Homo sapiens: one gene and its partner. The protein of the gene in region 1 interacts with the protein of each later gene in a biochemical or structural test. Each region holds a gene or a part of one and is shown in the gene's direction. Other genes may lie near its edges. The genes, in order: LMX1B and NPHS2.

What was found.
Region 2: the proteins of LMX1B (region 1) and NPHS2 form a complex in vitro, tested with the Homo sapiens proteins (one study listed by BioGRID).

Annotation. Positions count from the first base shown.
Region 1 is NC_000009.12:126,616,928-126,620,527, forward strand, and holds part of LMX1B (LIM homeobox transcription factor 1-beta), read left to right. Parts: intron 1-3,600. UniProt on the Homo sapiens protein: Transcription factor involved in the regulation of podocyte-expressed genes. Essential for the specification of dorsal limb fate at both the zeugopodal and autopodal levels.
Region 2 is NC_000001.11:179,574,289-179,578,404, reverse strand, and holds the start of NPHS2 (podocin), read left to right. Parts: upstream 1-2,456; 5' UTR 2,457-2,540; coding exon 2,541-2,814; intron 2,815-4,116. UniProt on the Homo sapiens protein: Plays a role in the regulation of glomerular permeability, acting probably as a linker between the plasma membrane and the cytoskeleton.

The DNA of each region.
Region 1 (3,600 bases):
GGGTAGGGATTGGAGTCCATTCAGAGGTTCAGCTGTTTTGCTGGTCCCAGAGTGCAGCTGAGGCCTTCCTCTCAGTAGGAAGCACCCCAGATTTAGGCACACTGCCGTAGGTCGGCTTTGTGCTGTGCTCTGAACTAATATGATTCTAGTTCCGGGAGAGGGAGACGCCAGTCCGTTCAGTCACAGCCCAAGCATAGAGCAGCACAAATTGAATGGGGAAAATAGTTTGGGGTAGATGTGGCTGTGGGCTCTGGGCTGGCTAGAGGAGCCCCTCTGTAGGGTGCACCAGCCTCTAGCCCCCTCCCCACCACGCCCTGCACCCCTGGCCTCACTCTGCTTGCCTGATCCCGAGCTCTGGCAGTGCCACTTACACCCAGCTCAGCCACCAGCCTTTACGACAACACATGGGGGAAGGGGGCCCAGGAAACTAAAACCGGCCTCCAAATCATTTGCACAGCTTAAAAAAAAGAAAAAAACTTGTTAATATATTGAAAAGACTTATGAATCGCGTGTACATATTCTGCCCTCCCCCCACTCCCCATAATTATTTACGGAGCTTCTCTTTAAAAAAAAAAAGGAAAGGATAACCCCTGGTTCTTCAGGCACAGAATGGTAAAGTCACGAAATTTCAGCTGGATGTTGCCTTAGAGATGAGCGGCTCACCCCCTCATCTTACAAAACAATTAAACGTTAAGCATTTGCTACTGCTTTGTCCAAAGTATATTTGTTTTAAAAAGAAAAGGAAAGAGTCACCTAACAGCCAGCTTCTTCAGTGCAGTCCGGTGTGTTGAGAATGATTTTTGGCACAGGGCGAATCTCAGGTCCGAAGACCTCACTCAGTCTGGATCCTGTGGGGCTGAAGCCTGGGGTGGGGAGTGCATTATTCTAGCTGTGGACAGTTCATTCCTCCACCCTCATTCTATTTTTTCCAATAACGCCAATTAGGTATCTGCGTTAGGCCGGCCGGCAGGATGTGCTGGGGGTGGGGGGTGGGGGGTGGGGTGATTGTTATCAGGACAAATAGCCAGTGAGTCGTTTCACAGGGAGATGGAGCGCCGCTCCAGGCAGGCAGCAGCCACTGGAAAGGGATGTTCTTTGCACAATAAAAATTTTTTTATTCACATTTCTTTTTTTCTTTGAGAATTGCAGATGCATATTTATTTCATCTGTGCGTAAATGCTTTTCAGACAGGAATCCAAGCAAGCGGGCGCAGAAACGTGCCTTCTTGATATTGTCGAGTCTGTGCGTCAGCGGTATTGAGAAATTAACAATCCCCCCACCAAACACAACTTCTGAAAAATGTGTCCTCACCCCTGGCTGAGTTGCAGGGCTCCGTCCTTAAAAAGAGGTTGCCATTTTTAGTAAATGTCTCTTCTTCCTTTCGATTTGTTCTCAAAGATCCCAGACACCCAGAAGTGCCAAGTTGTCTTACGCACCACGGGGGTGATTAATTGACACTGGGGCACATTGAGCCGAATTTGATAAAAATCCTCTTGTACATCCTTGGCGGGCAGAGCAGAGCGCCGGCCGTGGAGTTTGGGCATTTTCACTCTTAACTCCAAAAGTCTCCTTTTTCCCCATGTGTGAGTTTTGGGGGCTCCTTCAAAAAAAAGAAAAAGCAGCCTTTTCGGACAGAAAACCAGTTAGGAAACGGAGAGGAAACGCAGCCTCCCCCAAATCAGAACACCTCTCACCGTCCTCCACCGGAGAACAAATGAAAAATAAGGCACTTTCCCCCCTCCCATGTTTTTATCTTGGCGGCTTGGCCGAATAGAATTATGTAACTCTCTTTTCTTGCCGTCTGTCGCTCGTCTGGAAAGGGTTTTTATCCTGAAGAGGTGGAGAATTCCTGGAGGAGGCTCCGGAAGGGGGGAGGGTCGGTGGGAGAGTCCAAAAATCTGTCACAAAATGGAGTCTAATCGCTTGTAAGACAGCTCCCAGGTTTGGCGACCCGAGACCCGCTGGGGTGCAAGCGGGCGCCTTTGTGCACGGCGAGACGCGGGGTTCCGGCCCGGGCCGCGCTCCTACCTCGGCGGCGGGGCCGCGGCGTCCTTCCGCCCGCAGGGCCTGCCCGGGCGGCCGAGCCTCTCGGCGACACAGACTTCAGGGCTCCGCCGGGCCCGCTGGGGGCCCTTTGGGCTCGCCTGTCCAGGTAGGATGTGCCTACGTTGGCAGCAGGGGAGCATCGAGGCTTTGATTGAGTTTCACAGAAAGCCCTCTTGAGTCCTGGGGTGAGTTTTTAAAAAATTTCCCCCAGCTGGCTGTGGCTCCAGTGGCCCAACCGCTCTGCCCTGCGCATTCCTTTCCTTGGAAGTGTTTACCCCGGGAAAGACCTTCTTGGGAGGCTCACCTCTCCCCCCACACTCCCCATCCAGCTCCCGCGTTCGGGTGTGGCCCAGGGGGAGAGCAGTCAGGCTCCGGCCTTCTCTGGCTACTTCTTCTGCCAGCCTGGAAGGCCTCCCATAGGCCCTCCTGCAGGGTGCCAGTCTCAAGCAGCACCCCTTCCCCAGTGTGTACCCCAACCAGCGAGCCCCCCTGCCCCAACCATCAAACTCATTCAGGGCTGCAGAGCGCCTGTCCTGGAAACTGCTTGGGAGGAGGAGCCAGGACTTTGCCTTACAAAAAGGCTTCTATGGTGCTGTCTCTGGGGGCTGAGGCCCAAAGGGCTCACCCTGGCAGCCCAAGTCTGGGGACCCTCTGGCCCTTTGGAGGGTACCTCTCCATTTAACCCCGGCACCTTGGCTGTGTGCAAGACGGTAAGCACAGGCCTTCCTGAGGCTGCAGTCCCCTGCTGCTGAACGGAGGCATTATTCACAGTGACTCCTGGCTCACCCTCGACTCCCCGGGCGCTGGGCTGGTGTGGCCTTATTTGTTTGCCCTATTTTTCTTGAGTGGGGGAAGCAGGCTGGGAGGATCTCCTCTGGGGTATGTGATTGGTGACTGTCAGCTCTTTCCTGCCCTGTCCATTGGAGCCAGGCTTAGAGACCCACGGCCGTGGCACCTACCTGATCCTCCTCTGTGAAATGGGGACTTATTCTGCTGGGGGCAAGTATTCTTATAAGGACTTGAGATAAGGTGCCCCAAAGGACCTGGCATCTTGCCTGGCTTGTTATTAATACTCTGGAAGTTATTGCTGTTACTCTTCTCACCATGAGCATGGCAGGGAATACCTTGTCTCCAAGGACACACACCACACTGCCAACAGGTTCTCTACCCAGGTTCCATGGTACACAGGGTTTACCATGAGCCTCTCCATGCAGGGAGGATGAGGAGCACCCTGGGGAAGCCATTGCCTTTCCCTTCGTAGGACACTGTAAAAGTCTTGCCTTCCTCAGCCATGAAAAGAGCTTTAGACTCGGAGTCAGACCTGAGTTCACCTCCCAGCCCCAAGTCTTAGCAGCTGTGTGATCTTCGCTAAGTGGTTGCCCATCTCTGAGCTGGGGCCTCATCAACAAACTGGGGGTGATGATGTGACTTTGCAGGGTGGTTGTGAGGATTACACAGGCACCTGGTGGAACTTTAATAAATATTCCATTCTCCGGGGGATCCATTATCCTCTCCTGCACCTCAAGAGAGGTGGAAAACCTGATTGTGTGGGTG
Region 2 (4,116 bases), on another chromosome or scaffold:
TCCTTATAGTTTCCAGCTCTAAAACAACAGGATTTGTAACATCATGTAGTGCCAATCAATTCCAGCCTTTCCATTAAATAATCCAAATGAATCAGTATTCATGCATTCACTTATTCATATGGATATAATACTTCAAAACACTAACTGGGAATAAGTGTAATACTTTAGAAAGCCTTGCACTCTTTCATAATCTTTCACCTTGGAAACATAAAAGTAAACAGCTTTAATTGATCCTCCCTTTCTTCTAGTAACCCAGTTCCCACAGATGTCAGTTTCTTAACAAATCCAAACAAGGAGTAAAGTATTGAGAGTTTCAGAATGTGTGCATATCATATTTTCAGCAAAGGGATGAGCAACACTTTCAATTAAAAAGGAATCTAAAAGAAAACAGCAGCATCCTTGTAAAAGTAGATGAGGACAGCCAGCTGGACTTAGCTGCTAACTCAGCACTCCCTTCCCCAACTCCTCCACCTTCCAGCCATGCTGCATTGACCTTTTTATCATGGAATGGTATGCAGCTTCTCTGATTTTGTCATTGTCACTCATAATCCCAGCAGACTTGTGTTATAAGCAGCTGCTTATATTGCTGTTATGTATAGATATAGAAATGTAACTTGTCAGTGGTCAAAGAAGCCAAGGAAACTGAGCAAAGGTGACTGAGAACAAGTGCTCAGCATGGGCTCCAACACCCAGTAGGGCCTTTTCTCATTGATTTTTCTCCTACAAGGAATTTCTCTCTTATTGAAAGACAGTACAGTTTGGGGAATATCATTTGACCAGATATCCTGCTCCATTCTTGGAATGAAAAACAGGTGCAATTTTAGTATAAGAGTCTAGCTAGGGATGCGGATGAAATTAATTTATAACAGGACCAGGCTGAGGAAAAACACCAATAAATGCTACAAATAGTTTGTCACTTTTTCTAACAGGGAAATCTCTAAAGGATGATAAAGATGCTAGCTGTGTTTAATAGCAAATGTTAATTTGGGGGAATATGAAATAATCATGATATCTTTCTCTCTTTGAGCCAAACGCAGCTTTGGAATTTTTCTCACTGTAGTGTTGTAGGCAGAAACTATCAACTGAGGCAGGCCCTTGCGAGGAAATATTTATCCTCCTTAGCCCATGCAATGATCAGGTTTAGACAGTAAAAAATCTATTTAAGTGACTGGATTGCTCATCTTTTATTTACTTTACTCCCAGTGGCCTAACCTGGAACATATAGAAGAAAGTAGTGGAATGGTTTTTCCAGACGCACTTCAGTTACTTCAGGTCCTCAGTGTTTAATAAGGTTTTGGGAGAGAAAAAAAGCTATTGCTGTGTGAATTCAATAAATATTTAAAAAATTTAAAAAATCAGTGAGCATTATTTCTGCCATCATGTGATCTGAACTATCTGAGTAGTATCATAAATCTTGGGTGATGGGTTACCTTGACCAACCTCCCTTTCAGTAAGAAACAAATTATTAACAGAAAGTGAAAGAGAAATAAACCTATTCAATGTTTCAAGTCCCTCAGAAGAGGGTGAGGCAGCTCCCCAGATCGTTGCTAGATCCAGCCTGGCCAATGAACCCTGAAAAAGCCCAACTCCTGCTTTCATCATGGAAGCACGGGACAAAGTGTCTCTTCCTAAAAACAGAAGTTAGACCAGACCCCTTCCTGCCTATGATTCTTCAAGAAGCATTGCATCATCAACATCAGGCATAAGCATTAATAAAGACCCTAAATAATAACAGAGACGAAACACATCGCAAAGAGAGTTTTCTTTTATCCCCTTTAAAATGTAAATACTCCCAGGAGGAATCAGCCAACATCATTAGGGGTTAATGCATATGTAGAATAACTAGGGCCAGGATATAAAATAAGAAATACGTAGGGAGGAGAGAAAGGCATCCTTGAGACGACTCCAAGAAGGAAAGTTGGGGATGAGGCGAAATTTCTGATTTTACCTTAAAGTGACCCTAATTCGATGACCTTTTGTGGTTTTTTTCTTTTTTCTTTTTTCTTTTTTACTTGGCCCTGCCCAAGCAGGACCTAAAAACAAACAGACAAAAAAGGTTACTAACAACTGTTCCTCTCCACGAAAATCTGCAGTAAAAGGTAAAAGATGTATTCGTTTTGAAGAGAAACCAGAGCTTGCGATGAGCTTCTGTATCTCCGTCAGCCCTCTAGCATGACATTAGGAACCCTCCAGGAGATGAGTCTTCACAGCCCGGGTTGGCACCTGCAGACACGCACTTTTCAACGCCCGCACCCTGCCCGGGGCCGGCTCTCCCACCCAGGCCTCTCTCTGCTTCAGCGCCGCCCCGGCCGTGGGAGTCGGCGGGCGCAGTCCACAGCTCCACCAAGACACAGCTGTCGGGGTTCCGGGTGCGCCCCGCCCGCGGCCCCGGTGTCCCGCCCCTCGCCCTCAGCCCCCACCCGACGGTCTTTAGGGTCCCCCGGGCACGCCACGCGGACCCGCAGCGACTCCACAGGGACTGCGCTCCCGTGCCCCTAGCGCTCCCGCGCTGCTGCTCCAGCCGCCCGGCAGCTCTGAGGATGGAGAGGAGGGCGCGGAGCTCCTCCAGGGAGTCCCGCGGGCGAGGCGGCAGGACTCCGCACAAGGAGAACAAGAGGGCAAAGGCCGAGAGGAGCGGCGGAGGCCGCGGGCGCCAGGAGGCTGGGCCCGAGCCGTCGGGCTCCGGACGGGCGGGGACCCCGGGGGAGCCCCGAGCGCCCGCCGCCACGGTGGTGGACGTGGATGAGGTCCGAGGCTCCGGCGAGGAGGGCACCGAGGTGGTGGCGCTGTTGGAGAGCGAGCGGCCCGAGGAAGGTACGGATTCAGCACCACTATCTGCTACTTTTCCAGGTGGTAACTAAGGGGCGTCAGATAAGGTGGAAAGGGTCATCCCCACGAGACCCACTGAAGCCAGAGCAGATTGCTGGATGCTCAGGTTCCCAGGAACGGAAGGGCGTAAGTTAGGAACCCAGCAACCTGCTATGGTGAGCAAAGAACATCAGAAGAAATACAAATATCACTATATACTGGTCTCGGGGCCAGCCTTGGATGGGACTGGGGAGCGAGTGTGGTACAGGTTGGGGACGAAGCAACTTGGCAAAGGAGCCATGGACTTGGTTTTTGTGGCCATGGAGGGGCATACGGGCACCTAATTTAAGTAAAGACATGCACGAGCTGGTGGCTGTAGGCTGTAGGCTTATTCTTCTTCCAGCGTCCCCACCCCTCGGTCTTACCTAAAAGCATTTTAAACTTCTGGGAAGATGATCATTCTTTCTGAAAAGCAGTCGCAGCAGAGCCAAGTGAGGAAGAGCCACACCTGAGTTTAAATCACAGCTCAACCACTTGCTAGCCATGTGATCATAGGAAGGACCTTAACCATCTCTCCTATAACAGTACCTGCCTCAGAGGGTAGTGGTAAGGATACAATGAGAAAAGGCATCCAAAGCACTTTGCACAAAGTCTGGAACAAAAACTTACTCAATTCCAGCTGCAAGCTAAGAGAGAGGAAAATTAGATCAAAGGAGGGAATGCAAAGAAAGGTGTCTCTTTTGCTTCTGCAGGAGAAACAACTCTTGGGAAAATTTTGTCTACCTCCAGTCTTTTTTATAATGAGTGGAAGAAAAAAATGATTACCACTTTAGTGGGATGACAGGTGTTAAAAGAAATTAAATAAGGAATAGTGTGTTATATTGCTTCCTGCTGGCTCTGAAGTTTTAACATTTCCTAGTTACCAGCAAAGCAGTACATGCTGGATCACTGAAAGCTACCATTTAAGGAAGATTTCTGCAGTTGGGGTATAATTTAAATGGGTCACGTTAATACTGTTTTGCCCAGTTGATGATACCCTTTCATCAGTCAGAAACCTCTGTTCAGTAAATGGTTGCTGGGTTCAATGCTGAGGTTAGAGGGCTTGTAACTGTGAGGCAGCAGATCACACTGGTAGGGTAGACAAGTAAGGAAGCCACCATTTATGAAACCCCTACTATATGCCAGGCACACACTGGGTGTTTTACTGAGTTATTTAATCTCTCACCATCCTCTTATCACAGATGAGGAAACATGCTCTGAGAAATTAAGTAACATGCCCAAGTCGTGTAGCTGGGAAGTAGAGAAGCC